Regions from separate parts of the Homo sapiens genome. Here region 1 is linked to region 2. A link means that fine-mapping ties the variant in region 2 to the expression of a gene that starts in the linked region. Tissue or cell type: prefrontal cortex. Region 2 holds a variant in brackets; the other region holds the start of a gene. All regions are shown on one strand. Distances are between the middles of the regions.

The links. PIP is the estimated chance that this variant, and not a neighbour inherited with it, causes the effect.
Region 1: RSPO4 starts here. The variant in region 2 is fine-mapped to the expression of RSPO4 in prefrontal cortex (GTEx, PIP above 0.99).

What each region holds. Positions count from the first base shown.
Region 1 is chr20:997,973-1,006,064 of GRCh38, forward strand. It overlaps RSPO4 (R-spondin 4), which reads right to left and starts at 4,339. Exons shown (of 5, transcript NM_001029871.4): 1 at 4,114-4,339. The coding sequence starts at 4,192. RefSeq lists an enhancer at 7,674-7,968 and a silencer at 7,763-7,943.
Region 2 is chr20:1,112,787-1,120,889 of GRCh38, forward strand. It overlaps PSMF1 (proteasome inhibitor subunit 1), which reads left to right and starts at 5,816. Exons shown (of 7, transcript NM_006814.5): 1 at 5,816-6,116. The coding sequence starts at 5,988. It overlaps LOC105372493 (a long non-coding RNA gene), which reads right to left and starts at 5,662. Exons shown (of 2, transcript NR_136535.1): 1 at 5,598-5,662; 2 at 5,066-5,202. RefSeq lists enhancers at 5,567-6,209, 5,609-5,658, 5,669-5,718, 5,729-5,918, 5,959-6,088. The variant T/C (reference allele first, on the strand shown) is at 3,201.

The sequences.
Region 1 (8,092 bases), 110 kb before region 2:
CCTACTGTGTGCCTTTGGCCCCCTTCCCTCTTGGACTGCAGTAAATCTTCCCAATTGCTCAGAGAGGTAGGTGTAAGTTTTCCCATTTCACAGATGGGGAAGCACGGACGGGAGAAGGCATGTGGCCTGCTTAATGTCACATATCTAGGGCAGGAGAGGGCTCAAGGTTTGATCCCAGGGCTCTTCACTTTGCCCCTTGCTTGCTCAGGTCTAGAAAGATCCAGAAGCTCCATGTGAATGTGGGGGTCCCTCCCCAGAAGGCCTTGGATGTCAGGGAAAGTCAGTCACAGGCTGGCATCTCCTCCTTGCCCAAATGGACCTCCAGATCTAGGGATGCGAACCAGGGCCCCCTCACTCTGCCCTACTGTCCCATTGCCAGGACACCCCAGCATGTTTCAAAAAAATGTCCCCATCTGGTTCTGATTCATTTACACTTCATTAATCAACATGCTGTTTTGTAAGAGACACTTGAGATCCAAGAATCTTTCTCAAGTCTTTTACTTCATTCTTTCTTAGAAACAGAAAAATTGGGCTTCATTAAGACGCAGTGACGCCGGAGCCTGAGGAAGGATGGGCCTGTGGGAACCAGGCCTCAAGCAGGCTCAGAGAGGGCAGATGCCAGCCCAGCACCTCATTCCTCGGGATTGTGCAGACCTGGCCAAACGCTAAGGCCAAAGACTCAGGCATGGGGGAGGCTGGAGAAAGGTGGGAAAGGGTCATCCCTCTATGTTGGCAGCTCCCCAAGGACAGGCCCAGGGCTGCTCACCTGGGTATCTCCAAGGTCCCCAACACAGAGCCTGGCACAGAGGCTGCCCTGTGAAATGAACAAGTGAATGAATGAAGCACTGCCAATACCCAGGTGTTTTCAGGACACATTCTCCTGCCAAAGTTAGATAAGGTCAAAGCTGGTAGGACCCTGAGGGATTGTGTACAGAATTTTCCAAGCAGATGCCTTATGAGAAATGGTCTCTGATGTGTAATATGTTTGGGAAAGGTCACTCTCTCTCGCTCTCTTTTTTTTTTTTTTTTTTTGAGACAGGGTCTGCTCTGTCGCCCAGGCTGGGGTGCAGTGGCACAATCACGGCTCACTGCAGCCTTGATGTCTTTCCTGGGCTGAAGCGATCCTCCCACTTCGGCTTCCTAAGTAGCTGGGACTACAGGTGTGCACCACCACCAACATGCCTGGCTATTTTTTGTATTTTTTTATAGAGACAAAAAATGTATTTTTTGTAGAGTTTTGCCATGTTGCCCAGGCTGGTCTCGAACTCCTGAGCTCAAGCTATCCTCCCATCTTGGCCTCCCAAAGTGCCAGGATTATAGGCTTGAGCCATCGCACCTGGGTTACACTGTCTGTCTCCACCTCTTCAGCATGCTCTGATAAGTCTCACAGCCAAGAAATCTGCTAAACCCAGCATTTCCCAATCTATTTGACCAGAACTCCTGTGGCTGCCTTGCAAAATATGCTACAGGAAGGGTTTATCTAGCTCTGGTCCCCACTGCAGTGCCAGTGGGAAACTGAGGCTATGGGCGGGGGACAGAGAAAATCCACTCACCCAAGGTCACATGATACAACTGGGTCAGGGGTGTGACTGAAATCCAAGGCTATCTCCATTGTACCCCAACAAATAAATGGAGCCCTAAGCCTCTTCTGAAGATGCTAGGCAGGTGTGTGTCCCAGAGGCAAGAGATCAGGTACTGGAGGAGGGATGCTGAGAGCCCCTCACCAAATTGCGGCCATATCCCTACCTCCTCACTGAGCTCCTGGGGAGGTGGTGGTGAGCTGTAGATGGGGCGGGGGGCAAAAGGGGCAGGATAGGAATTTTTCATTTTTCTTTAATTTTTTTGTCTTTTTTGAGCTGAGAAGCATCTTAAAGTCTTCTAAACCAGCTCCTTTTTGTTGTTGTTGTTGTTGTTGAGACAGAGTCTCACTCTGACACCCAGGCTGGAGTGCAGTGGCATGATCTCGGCTCACTGCAACCTCTGCCTCCTGGGTTCAAGCGACTCTCCTGCCTCAGCCTCCCAAGTAGCTGGAATTACAGGCGCCCGCCACCACACCCAGCTAATCATTGTATTTTTAGTAAAGACAGGGTTTCATCATGTTAGCCAGGCTGGTCTCAAACTCCTGATCTCAAATGATCCGCCTGCCTTGGCCTCCCAAAGTGCTGGTATTACAGGCGTGAGCCACCACACCTGGCCTAAACCAGCTCCTCTTTAGATGAGGAAACTGAGGCTCTGAGAAGGGAAGACCAGCACACCTCAGAAGATATCTTCTCAGCATTATGTCAGGCAGATTGGGATTCGAGCCTGCTTTGCTACTCACCTGCTGTGCGACCTTGGACAAGTCAGTTTCCTTCTCTGAACCTCAGTTCCCTCATCCAGAAAACAAGCATCTCTCCCCTCCCTCCACTAAGCCACTGTGAGTAGCCAAAGACACAGTGGACAGGAAATGAGAATGATTAATACTTACGAGCACCCATTAGGAGCCTGTGTCCTTAGCTACTCATCTTGCCCACAATCCTCCTTATGAGCAGGATACTTAAGTAAAAGATGGGTTGATGAAGGGAAAGGGGGTTTGTTTGATTTTTTGGTATTGTTTAGAATGGAGAAAGATCTCAGAGATCTTCTAAAGGACCCTCAGATGGGTAAAGTGAGGATTGGACAGGCAAAGTGACTTATCCAAAGTCACTCAGTTGGTAACTGGGGAAGCTGGGATTTGAACTCAGTTGACCTGGCTCCAGAGCCCATGCCCCTAACTACTAAACAAAGGCCATTCACAAAGGAGTGTCCCCATAGAGTCCCAAACTCACCCCAGCTCAGCTGAAAACCACACGCCTCTCTAGTCCCTTGTCCCACTGTCACAGCAAGAACTGGAGCCTCTTGGGCCACAGTCTCCCCAACCCCATCCAATCCCACCTCCCAATTCTCCCACAGCCTCTGTCTGCTTCCTGCTCCGTTCCAGGAGTGACTGTGTCGCTGTAGGGCTTTCACACAAATGGAAGGCCCCAGAGGGCAACCCATCCTCTCTCATTTTCCTTCCCCTTTATCCTTGCTCAGACCCGATGCCAGGGCTGGAAAGAGAGAAGACACCAGCTGGACAATTCAGCAGTTATTTAAACCAGTCTGAGCCTTGGAATCCCAGGCTTTATTAAAACTGGACGACCCCTATGTCATGAGCATATAGTTGGGATTTGATGAGCTAGGACATGAAAAACCCGTGGCATAGTGGCTGGCATTCGGCTGCTGATCTTAAGAGTGGCACCTGGAGGCCAAAGGGCTGCCCAGCTCAGGCAGGCGATTTGCTCACTTGCTCACCCGCTTACCCTTCTCTGAGGCACAGGCTCTACCAACTCCTGCTCTGCAGGGACAGCCTCCAACCCACCTTCTGAGGATGTTCTGACTCTCACAGCGAGGCTGTGGCATAGGACTCCCAGGTGAGAGCGCATGCGGCCCCTGGTACATTTATAATCTGAACCTTGGCTCATCTTCCTAGTGGCCTGAGAGGTGAAGATGGAAAAGCTGAGGCTCTCTGAGGGGCTGGACTTCTTCTAGGTCATCCCCTATTAGAATAAGTGAACCTGAACTCAGGTCTCAGGTCTGGCTGAACTCAACATAGGGGGGCCATGGAGGATCACTGCCCTCTGGGAGGTGACACCAGGAGTCAGGGTGAGTGATGAGGCTGGGACTGGGGCCTCTGGACGCCCAGCCCAAGGCTCTCTATGTCACTTCCTGGCCGAGCATGGATGCTTGGAATGGCTTCTACGCCACTGAGTCTGTCTCCTAGTCCCTGTGCCCCGCAGGCTGGCTCTTGAGTCTTCTGTCTCTGCACGAAGCCATCCTCCTTTCTGCTGACCATGCGGCTACTACAGAGAGCCCTGCTACCCTCTCCCTTCTGGGTGAGTCTCCTTGGCCCACCCTACTCAATGGCTCGCTCACTGGGTGCCCTGGAGCCTCAATCTCCCCATCTTAAGTGAGGTTGAGACTCGTCTGGAGGAGCGAAGGACCCAGGGCGCCAGGCACCAGGCAGATGCCCCCAGAGCCGCCGCCCCCGGTCCTCCGGCCCCCGGTCTGCCCCGCAGCGCCTGCCCGGCCGCCCTGCCCAGCCACCCCTTGTACCTTGCTTCTTCCTTCGGTTCAGGGCGAGCATGTCCACGGCGTGGGCGACGAGCAGGAGCAGGCAGAGTGGCGCCCGCATCTGGGCAGCCGGATCCGGGCTGGCGCTCCCCAGGCGGCCCGACGGCCCAAGGGCCCCACGTCCCGGCGGCGGCACGGCGGGCGCGGGGGCTGCTGTGGGCGCGCCGGGCGCATCCGCCAGGCGCGGGTCGGTCCGGCCGCCAGGTCTAGTGAGGGCGTTGGCGGAGCCGGGGCACTGCCCTGGCGGGGAGGAGCCGGCGCGGCGGGGGCGGCGCGTTAACCAGCTCGGGGCCCGGGAGCGCGCGCGGGGAGGGGGCGGGGGTCACCCGGGTCGGGGCCCTCGAGTTCGATCTGTCCCGCAGCCGGCGGTCTTGCGTCTTTCCCGCCCCCAGCACTGCCCCCGAGCACGTGCACGTGCCCACCGCCAGCCACAGGTACGCACGCGCGCGCAGGTACAGATGCGCGGACACCCGGAGACCCGTACGGTCCCCCGCGCCCTCTCAGCGCCTGTGATTTTCTTTCCCTCCCCCCAGTCCCCTTTCTCTGTCTGTTCCTCCTTCTGGCCCTTAAGGACAACTCCTTGTCTCCTGCTTTCTCGGTCTTTCCGCGGCCCGCGCTCCCCTGCTCTGCCCCCGACCCTGCCTGGCTGTTCCTGCATCCTTTACTCTTGCCGGCCGTCTCTCTCTCAGGCTCACTGTCTGTGTCCTCCTGGCTGGGCCTCTGGTTCTCCCTTTTCTCTGTCTCTCCCTTCAACCCCATCTCTCCCCTTCTCCCCTCCTGCAGGGTGGGGTGTTTGCGGGGCTCCTGCTGCCTGGCTTTCTCTTTTTCTCTCTACTCTGTCTCATTCTTTTAACAGAGGCCTGAGCCCCTTCTGGCCACTAACCCTGAATGTTTCCTGTGCAGTCTGCGGGGATCATCTACTCCGACTCAAAGTGACCAGCACCTCATAAATCCACTTGTGACAGGGCTGGGGACCTGGACTGTGTTTCCTCCAACCTTATCACCAGGACTGGGAGCAGCTGGTTCAAGTTTAACCCTTTCAGAGCAAAATTCCTCCTTCAACCCGACAGCATGCTCACCTCTCCTGTCACTATAACCACCAAAAACAACAACAATCATGCTAGCTATCATTTGTGAGGCATATATGGTGGGCATTGCTAAGAACTTGACATATACTAGAGTCTTCAAAACAACCCAATGGTTTGGGTTTGTATTCTGAGTAATTCCACTTTTCTGGGGAGCAAAGGGAAGCTCAGAGAGGCCAAGTGACTTGCCCAAGGCCACACAGCAGGTCAGTGGCCATTCTGGTCCAGTGCCTGCCCCTCTTAGCCACTTCTCAGGCACAGACTCATCAGAATGGAAGAGGCCTTGGAGGGAGGCCTAGAGAAACTTACAGTTGACACTCTCTTGCTGAACAATTGTCCTTCCTTTTTCTTTTCTTTTTTTTTTCTTTTTTTTGAGATGGGTTTTCACTCTGTCACCCAGGCTGGAGTGCAATGGCGCCATCTCGGCTCACTGCAACCTCTGCCTCCTGGGTTCAAGTGATTCTCCTGCCTCAGCCTCCCAAGTAGCTGGGATTACAGGCACCTGCCACCACACCCAGCTAATTTTTGTAGTTTTTAGTAGAGACGGGGTTTCACCATGTTGGCCAGGCTGGTCTTGAACTCCTGACCTCAAGTGATCCACCTGCCTCAGCCTCCCAAAGTGCTGGGACTACAGACGTGAGCCACCCCACCCAGCCTGTCCTCTTTTTTCCTACATGTGGAGCTTGCTCCAAAAGAAATGGAAGGTAAATGCTGGTATCTCCTCCAGCTCCTTCTCCCAGTGCAATGAGGGACACTTGAAGGCATGGCAGGGGCAGGGGAAACACACAGAGAGTGTGGCAGCTGAAGGTACAGCCCTGGCCTGGCCATTCTTTCTGTGGGGCCCCAAGAACGCTGGCAGACAACACGGAGAACTTGGTGGAATGTCAGAGACAGCCCACCCAAAGTGCTCCATTTCACAGATGAGGCCACTGAGCCTTCAGGACTGGGGGGTGCCTAGATTAGGCCACCCAGTGAGTCAAGGACTGAGCTGACATGGGCATCCAGGTGTCCCATTGTGGTCATCACCATGGCCTGCAAGGACCTCTTGTTCTGATATCTCTGATCTCAGTCTTTCCCACTGCCCCACCCCTCTCTCTTTAGCCTTAGAGATTTCAGCCCTTGAATATTTCACAAACACCACAGGCCTCTCACACCTCTGAGCTTTTCATGTTGTGGGGCCTCTCCATGGAATACCATCCTATATCCTACCTCCTTCTTCACTGCCTCTGCTCCAGGAAGCCTTCCCTGATTCTCAGGCCAGGTCCAGTGCCTCCTCTGGGCATCCACAATCTCTTTATCACAGCTCTGATCACATCAGGTGGTAACAATGGATGTGTCTGTTCTCCTTCCAAACTGCCATCTCTTTCAAGCCAGAGCCAGACACACAGCGGTGCTCAGAATGTTTGCATAATGAGTGCATAAATAAATGAATGGTGAATGAATGAATTCTCCAGATGCACAAGTCTCCCAGCCTGTACATGGAATGCAGGTACTTGGAGAAATGAGGTGACCCCAGAAGATCAAGCCTTAGGAAAGCGGAGGTCATTCCCTTCCCCACTACCCCCAGTACTGGAGTCTCCAAAGTCCAAAGGGGACAGCTTCCATGTGAGCAGGGCCAGAGAGGTCCAATGTGCATTGTGAATTGACAGCCAGCCACACGGCTCTGCAGGATGAAGCTGCTTACCCCTTCTTGAATTTTTTCCCCTATTTATTCCCCACTGCCTCTGCTCTAGCTAGCCTCGTGTTTCTCAGACTCTTGTCACTCATCCTGCGGTTTTTGCTGTTCTCTCTGCCTGGAAAGTCTTTCCCCAGATTTGGGGCTTGTCTCCCCTCGATGTTGCCTCCTCAGAGAGGCCCCCTGTGACCACTCCAGTAAAACGCACCACCATGCACTTTATCCTCTTGTCTTGCTTTACCCTCCGTAGTACCTGTTCATGTCTGTCAGTTCCTGTTTGCTTGTTTGTGAGTTCCATGAGGACAGGAATCTTCTATTTTGTCCCTATGTGCCTTACACTGCAGTGATTAAGACATACTTGTGGAATGGATTTTTTTAAAAAATGAGTGAATGAATAAGCACTCATTCATCCATAGATTCATTGTGGGACCTCAAGTACTTTCTGTTCTCTTAGGCTCAATTTCCCCAGTTGTTCAATGGCACAGATGGGATTTTGTGTTCTGTGAGAGCCCCTTTAGTGCTTCCAGAATTGGATATTTCTAGGGTTCTAAGGCCCAGAACTCAGGGCCCTTCATACCCCAAGATGCTCAGAGGGTGTTTGGTTCTCTAACTATGGGGGCTGTCTGGGCATCTTGGCCTGTTATCCAGTTCCCCTACCCCAATACAGGTGCCCAGGGAGGCTAGTGATGCTGATGGCATGCTCTGGCGGGGGGCGGGGAGGGGTGCACCCAAGGGTGTCAGTTAAGGCACCATTGTCACAAATAGATGAAGACAGGTATAATGGCTGAAACACACTAAGCTCACAGCATGTGTTCCTGATCAGCAGATCCTTCTCTGTGGGATAGCAGGAACTCAGATTCCTTTCAGCTTGTGTTCTGCCCTGTTCAGTACCTGGTTTAAAGCTCACCGAGAAGGGCAGGGCTTATGGGAAGTACAGAGCCTGTCTACCTATGTCCCATTGGCCAGAACTCAGACACACGGCCACACCTACCTGCAAGGGTGACTGGGAAATGTAGTCCAGCCATGTGCCAGACAACACACAGGAGGAAAAGCAAGAATTTGGTGAACATCTGGCCCATTGACCAACGTTGGGCCACCCTCATTTCTTGCCCCAGTCATGCAGTAGCTCCTTCCTGTGTCTGCTCTGACCCCTACAAGCTCTTCTTAAGCAGCCAGAGGACATGTATTATTCATCGGGTGA
Region 2 (8,103 bases):
GCTGGCTAATTTTTTTGTATTTTTAGTAGAGACAGGGTTTCACCGTGTTAGCTAGGATGGTCTCGATCTCCTGACCTTGTGATCCGCCCGCCTCCCAAGGTGCTGGGATTACAGGCATGAGCCACTATGCCCAGCCTAAAAATTATCATTTTTTTAAAAAAAAGAGATATCTGCTATGGGTGTCAAATATGCTAGGTACCCCACGGACAAGGGGAATGGGAAGTTGGGAAGTCTTGGATATCAGCTACTTGGTAGAAACAAAGAACAATATTAATCATAGAGGGCTTCCTGGAGGAGGTGATACGGTTGGGCTGATGCTAGGCCAAAGAAGAATTACAGTAGTGAACGATTTCGCCTCAGTGCCCATCTAGGCGCTGCCCCTTGGTTCAGTTCTTCATGGTTTCCAGGGAGGCAGGGAGCTTGGAATACCCACATTGCTGTCACTTGGCAACCAGGAACTGGTGGCTGCAGCCACCAGCCAAGTTCTTTCCATCATCCTGGGCCCTCACCTCTGGCATAGGCTCTTGGTAGTGGGGGCCCAGACAGGGAGGCACCTGCCACCTGCTTCCCTTCTCAGCCACCCACAGCCCTCATAGGGCAGAATGGGACTCTTGCTGATGTAGGTAAGTCCACAGAAAGTGCTGGATGGATCAGGGGCAACACACACACACACACACACACACACACACACACACACACACACACACCAGCCCCAGGAGTTCCTCCCATTTGTTCCCATCCCTGGAGGACCCTGGGGTTCAGGACAGGTGGAACATAGTCCTGGCCTTCAGGGGATTCACAGCCTAGTGCAAGAGATAGAGCTCACCTCATTCTTTCAATACACTGATGCCAGTGCCTATTCCATGCTGGCTGCTGGGTTACATACTTTCTTCTTCTTCTTTTTTTTTGTTTTTTGGTTTTTTTGAGACGGCGTCTCGCTCTGTCGCCCAGGTTGGAGTGCAGTGGCGCGATCTCAGCTTACTGCAAGCTCTGCCTCTCGGGTTCACGCCATTCTCCTGCCTCAGCCTCCGAGTAGCTGGAACTACAGGTGCCCGCCACCACGCCCGGCTAATTTTTTGTATTTTTAGTAGAGACGGGGTTTCACTGTGTTAGCCAGGATGGTCTCGATGTCCTGACCTCGTGATCCGCCCGCCTCAGCCTCCCAAAGTGCTGGGATTACAGGCGTGAGCCACCGCGCCCGGCCTGGGTTACGGACTTTCTAAGGCATGGCTTACCCCCGGTCAGGGGTGTGGGAGGACAGAGCAGATCGCACTACAACACCCTCATCACCCTTCAGCAGTCACCTCTAGACGCAAAGACTGCTTTCTCTAAATTATGCAACTCTGTGCCTGAGGGCCTTCCAGGACCCCAGAAGCAGCTCTCAGCCTGTGGCAGATGCCCTCAAATGCAATAGCTCTGAGACATGCCCCACACTGCCTCCCAGAGTTCCCGGGTAGGAGTGCGGTCCAGTTGCCCGTAGAGGTAACTGGCTTCATCACACTCCCTCTGCTGGCTCCCTTTCCTTCCTGTCTCACTTCCCTACTCCACTGCCCCCACCGCTATTTCCTGGAATCAGCTCCCAAATAAACCACTCAAATCCCTGTCTCACCACGGGCTTCTGAGAGAATACATGTTAAGACAGGGATGATGGTGTAGAAGAGGGAACCAGTGTTCTGTAAGATGCCAGCTACAACCAACTGTATGCAAAGCAGTGTTGAACCAAGGGGTGGGGGTGACGGAGCTGTCTGCCCTGTAAGATGCCAGCTACAACCAACTGTATGCAAACCAGTGTTGAACCAAGGGGTGGGGGTGACGGAGCTGTCTGCCCTGTAAGATGCCAGCTACAACCAACTGTATGCAAACCAGTGTTGAACCAAGGGGTGGGGGTGACGGAGCTGTCTGCCCTGTAAGATGCCAGCTACAACCAACTGTATGCAAACCAGTGTCAAGGGGTGGGGGTGACGGACCTGTCTGCCCTGTAAGATGCCAGCTACAACCAACTGTATGCAAAGCAGTGTTGAACCAAGGGGTGGGGGTGACGGAGCTGTCTGCCCTGTAAGATGCCAGCTACAACCAACTGTATGCAAACCAGTGTTGAACCAAGGGGTGGGGGTGACGGAGCTGTCTGCCCTGTAAGATGCCAGCTACAACCAACTGTATGCAAACCAGTGTTGAACCAAGGGGTGGGGGTGACGGAGCTGTCTGCCCTGTAAGATGCCAGCTACAACCAACTGTATGCAAACCAGTGTTGAACCAAGGGGTGGGGGTGATGGAGCTGTCTGCCCTGTAAGATGCCAGCTACAACCAACTGTATGCAAACCAGTGTTGAACCAAGGGGTGGGGGTGACGGAGCTGTCTGCCCTGTAAGATGCCAGCTACAACCAACTGTATGCAAAGCAGTGTTGAACCACGGGGTGGGGGTGACGGAGCTGTCTGCCCTGTAAGATGCCAGCTACAACCAACTGTATGCAAACCAGTGTTGAACCAAGGGGTGGGGGTGACGGAGCTGTCTGCCCTGTAAGATGCCAGCTACAACCAACTGTATGCAAACCAGTGTTGAACCAAGGGGTGGGGGTGACGGAGCTGTCTGCCCTGGTGCAGACAAGGAGTAGGTACATTTGCTGTAGAAAACGTAAAGGCAGTAACAAAACAGACCAAAGGCCAGTCCACTTTTTACTGTCATCATGTACCAGCAATTTGAATCAACTTCATTGATAAAATTCTCCACCTGACTAAGGCTGATAGCTCTCACTGTCCCATGCCCACCCCTTGAAAGCCCACTGATGCCAAGCACACTGAGGAAAGTGCAATTAATCATGGGCAAAGAGACGAGGGAAACCTCACTCAGGAGGCAACATTGACCTTGTAATCCCACAGAGCTAGCTGCATTCCACCATGCCTTTGCACATACTGTTTCCTTTTACTGGAACACCTTTTGATCCTTAATCCACTTTTTTTTTTTTTTTGAGACAGTCTCTCTTTATCACCCAGGCTAGAGTGCAGTGGCTTGATCTCGGCTCACTGCAACCTCTACCTCCCGGGTTCAAGCGATTCTCCTGCCTCAGCCTCCCGAATAGCTGGGATTACAGGTGCCTGCCACCACGCCCGGCTAATTTTTGTATTTTTAGTAGAGACAGGGTTTCACCATGTTGGCCAGGCTGGTCTTGAACTCCTGACCTCGTGATCCACCTGCCTCAGCC[T/C]CCCAAAGTGCTGGGATTACAGGTGTGAGCCACCATGCCTGGCCAGTACTTTTTTTTTTTTTTAAACACTAGACAGTGAGCTCTATAGGGACAGGAACCTGTTCATCTGTGTCTGGCCCACAGTAGGCACTTAGGAATGGGCTGCCACTAAGTAGGCACCTTAAGTGGACACCCTGCACTATGGTTCATGGCAGCCCAGCCTATGAAAGTTTATTGATGGAATGAATCTGTAGAAATTTTCCATAATTGGATAAGGGCATTACAAACAGAAGGGACAGAGCAAGCAAAAGCAGGGAAGACTGAAAGTGCAGAACTTCTCAGTAGAAAGGGCAAATAGCTTTATGCCACAGGCAGTACATCTCAGAGAGGAGTTCCACAGCCACTAGCTTTAGTGTCATCCAGAATGTAGTCAACATACATGCACTCTTCCTCAGACCTTCTCATCCAGAATCTCTGCAGAAGGGGTTCAAGAATCTGGTTGTCTCAAGGAAACTTTAGGAACACAAAATTTGGAGAGGCACAGGGCCAGCTGACAAAGGGAGTGATGGACTATAAAGAGGTAAGAGTGCCCTGACTGGGTTGGGGCTAGGCCAAGAATTCATTCCTTCATTCAGTATTCATTCTGTCTTTCAATAAGTATAGATTGATCCCAGAAGGCACTCAGGTACATATGTGCACAAGGTAGACATGCTCCCTGTTCCTTTGTCACAGTCTAGTGGAAAGACAGTCATTAAATAAGCAAAGAAATAAACACCTAACATAGTTTCAGGTTATGATTAATGCTTTGCAGGAAAAAAAAAAAGCCAGAGAGGGATTAAAGACGGGAGAAGGTTATTTTGGATGGAATGGTCTGGGAAGCCCTCTGTTGAGGATGGTAGGAGTGAGGGATGAAGCCACTTGAAATGAAGAAGCAAGACATGCAGATATCTGGGAAAAGAGCATTCCAGGAAGAGGAACGCAAAGGCCCAAACAGAACACATGAAACAGGGAAACTGGCTGGGAAGCTACTGCAATAGTCTAAGTGTGAGATGCTGGAGGATCAGACCAGAGTGGAAGCAGTGAAGGTGATGGGAAGTGGTCAGATTCATAATATATTTTGAGAGTGGAGTCAACTAGCTTTGCTGTTGGACCAGATGTAGATGTGAGAGAAGAGGGGGAGCCAAGGTTATTGCACGTATAAAGGGGATGAGAGGACAGTTGAAGGAGACTGAATCAGAGAGGTACAGGGCTGGCAGGGCTGGGGCAGGAGATGGCAGACCACATGCAGATTCCTGCAGACCATGGGGAGGACTTTACTTTTCCATTGAGTGTGACGATTTTGAGCCAACGGATGTGATCTGACTTTTCTTTTTTTTTTTTTTTCTTTTTTGAGACAGAAGATCGCTCTGTTGCCCAGGCTGAAGTGCAATGGTGCGATCTTGGCTCACTGCAACCTCCACCTCCACCTCCCGGGTTCGATTGATTCTCATGCCTCAGCCTCCCGAGTACCTGGGACTAAAGGCGTGCGCCACCACACCCAGCTAATTTTTGTATTTTTAGTAGAGACAGGGTTTCACCATGTTGGCCAGGCTGGTCTCAAACTCCTGACCTCAAGTGATCCGCCTGCCTCGGCCTCACAAAGTGCTGGGATTACAGGCATGAGCCGCCACACCTGGCCGATCTGACTTGTTTTCTAACAGAATCTCTCTGGTTGCGGAGTGCAGTACAGACTAGAGAGAGACAGGAATGGAATGGGGCAGTTCTGAGGCTGATGCCAGGCATCCAAGTGAAAGATGACAGGAGCTTGAACCAGGTTAGTGACTGGGATGGGGAAACTAAATTTATTTGGGTAAAAACAATAAGTGGATTTCATGAAACTTGTTGAAGTAACGGGTGGTAAAAATCATAAAGGGGGTAGGCAAATAAATGATTGAAATTTGATAGTGGGTCAGGAGCTTCAGCTCTGCGGGCAGCAGTTGTGTCTCCTTGGAGAAGTGGTTTCAACTCTGAGCCGTTTTGTCATCTGCAAAATGGGGATAATAACGGTCCATACTTCATAGAGTTGTTGAGAGGGTGATGTAAAGGTTTTAGCGCACGATGTAGCACACAATAAACACTTAATAAATGTTATCTTAGAAGCCAGACTGCCAGGTTCCCATAACCATTTCAGCCGTTCACCGGCTGGCTGTTGTCATCTTGGTCAAATTATCCCTCTGCGCCTCAGTTTCCTCATCTGTGCAATGAGGCACATTAATCGTTAATATCAACTGCATAGAGTTGGGTTGTGAAGATTAAATAAATGAATACAAGTAAAGCGTTTAGAATAATGTGGACGGTAGCAAGCACGGCGAACGTGTTAACGATTATTAAGAATGTATTTTAGCCACATTTCCCAGCCCCTTCCCCGGCCTAGCATACCCCATTTTGTGGATGGGAAGTCTGCCTCTCAGCAAGGTGGCCTCTTGGAGGACGCTGTGCCCGCGTCAGGCGATCCTGTCGACTGCCGCCAAGACCCGGCTTCCGGCTTTGAGGGGCCACGCCCCGCTCGCACTCCCTGGCGGAACCTTTCAGTGCTGCGCTCGCGTTGCCAACCCGGCGCGCCTCACGCAGTTGCGCCCGCTGTTGGGACTACTTCCGGCTTCCCCGCCCCGCCCCGTCCCCGGGCGTCTCCATTTTGGTCTCAGGTGTGGACTCGGCAAGAACCAGCGCAAGAGGGAAGCAGAGTTATAGCTACCCCGGCCGCGGAGCCGGCTCACTGCACTACCCCCGCCCCCTTCTTTCCTCCAGACGCCGAAGTCGCGGGCGCTCATGGCGGGCCTGGAGGTACTGTTCGCATCGGCAGCGCCGGCCATCACCTGCAGGCAGGACGCGCTCGTCTGCTTCTTGCATTGGGAAGTGGTGACACACGGTTACTTCGGCTTGGGTGTCGGTGACCAGGTACGCCACGGAGCCGGCCAGGGTGGAGGAGGGAACTGTCTTCTGCCCAAACTCAGAGTACCGGAGGCCTGGTCCAGAGCGCCCGATTTCCCCGCTTCTCCCAGTGCAGGGTCTGGGGCAGATGGCAGCGTTGGTAAAACCTGCGGGTCGGAGGTTGCTCACCTGCCCCATCCCAGCCCAGAGTCCCTCACGGCACAGCTGGCACAACATGATTTGTAAACTCAAGGGCGGACACTCGCTTCAACACAGCCTGGCAGCCTCTCAGGCCAGGACTGTGTGGATCTAGCATTCCATAGAATGGCAAAGAATCTAGACAGGAGTTTAGCTCCCCAGAGCACTTCTCACCCACCTGATCCCGTCTGAACTCCTTACCACCCAGCCTCGGGGTGAGGGGACTGACTCAGTTCCGCCCTCATACCACAGTAGAGCCTCCACCAAACATCTGGATCCAAGCACAGGTACAGGAGTGAGCTTTGACCTACTCAGCCCCAGGCCAGGGCCCTTTTTTCACCCGTTAGCATGGGCCCAGAGAGTTCACACGCCTTTCACCCTTTACTGAAGGGCCCAGCATAGTCCACTCGCTACTGCCATCCCCAACTCAAGCTCTAGGAAGCAATCACCCCCAGAGTCGTACACACATACACCCTGGGTGTGAGGGTCATATAAGATTTTCTCCTCATAGTTGTCCCCATAGGGCCAGCCCCTCTTCTCCCATCCCCAGGCTCCACCTCTTACAGCTAGGGACGTCGTTGTCATCCCCACAGAGTTCTAGGACTGCTGGACCCAACCCACCTCACTAATTCTTTGCTCTGGCATTCTTCTTTCTTTCCTGTCTCTTCCCTGTGACCCTCATCCCCAACATCCACATCATCCTAGACATCTGCTTCCTGGGAGAAGTGGGCCTGCCTCCATGCCTGCCCCTCACTGTCACTGTTCTCTCACTCTCAGAACCAAGACTAGCCATGGGAAACAGACCACCCCACCTATTGCATCTTGCCATGAGATTTCACCCTTCCTCTCCTTTTTGACTGCTTCAGTTCTCAACTCCTCTAATCATTTTTTTTAGCTTCTCAAATAGAGTCTTAATTCTCCCCTCCTGACATAGCTTTAGGGACCTCTCTTCAAACTTGCTTTGTACATTCTGAGCACTTAGACAAGTATCCCCTTTCCCCCACCCCTCACTGCTGTCCCTATTCCTCTCTGTCTCTTAGAACTAAAGACCAAGACCACCATACCCCTCTCACACTTTACCCCCTCCAGCAGGAATCAGAACACAAGAACCGTCAGGGATTTCTGGCTCTTTTTTTCCCCAGACCTCAATTATCTCACTGGGACCCCAGGTACACACTCAGGATCCCCATTCCCACCTCCAAACTCACACATACTTCATCTCTCAAATGGGCTCTAAGACTAGATATGAGGATGGAAAAGAACAGCTAGCCTTTCACACACACATACCTGGAAGCAGGAATCATTTCACCTTCCCAAACACATCTGTCCCTGACCTTTCTCTTTGTGCTGCTCTTCATTCCACATACCTTCCAAATGTCTTCCAGCATTTCAGACCTTGGGACCAGGTAGAGACAGCACCCCCATTTCAGCGTCAGGCCCCTCTTTCAATGCATAGTTCCCCTAACAGAAATCTTGTCTCCCCACTTGTCTTACTCCAGCTTTTTAATCTTAAGCAGCTCTTCACTTGCCCCAGTCATTTTATTTCAACTTTTCCTAGATTCTTCAAAGAAACTGGTATGTGGGATGGTGCAGGGGACAGTGGGGCTGAGAAGAGGAGTAAGATTTGATTTTGACCTGGGATCTCCTCCATTGGCCCTCAGCTCCCCCTGCCCTTTGTCTTGTCCTTCAGATGGAACAGCTCTGCTTTGCACTCTGTCCCTCCTCATGTACCTCACTCCCCTTACCTACTCCTAGCTAGCTACTTAGACTCTGCCACACTGTCAGAACCCCATCCACCTCTGCTGAGGAACTTGTT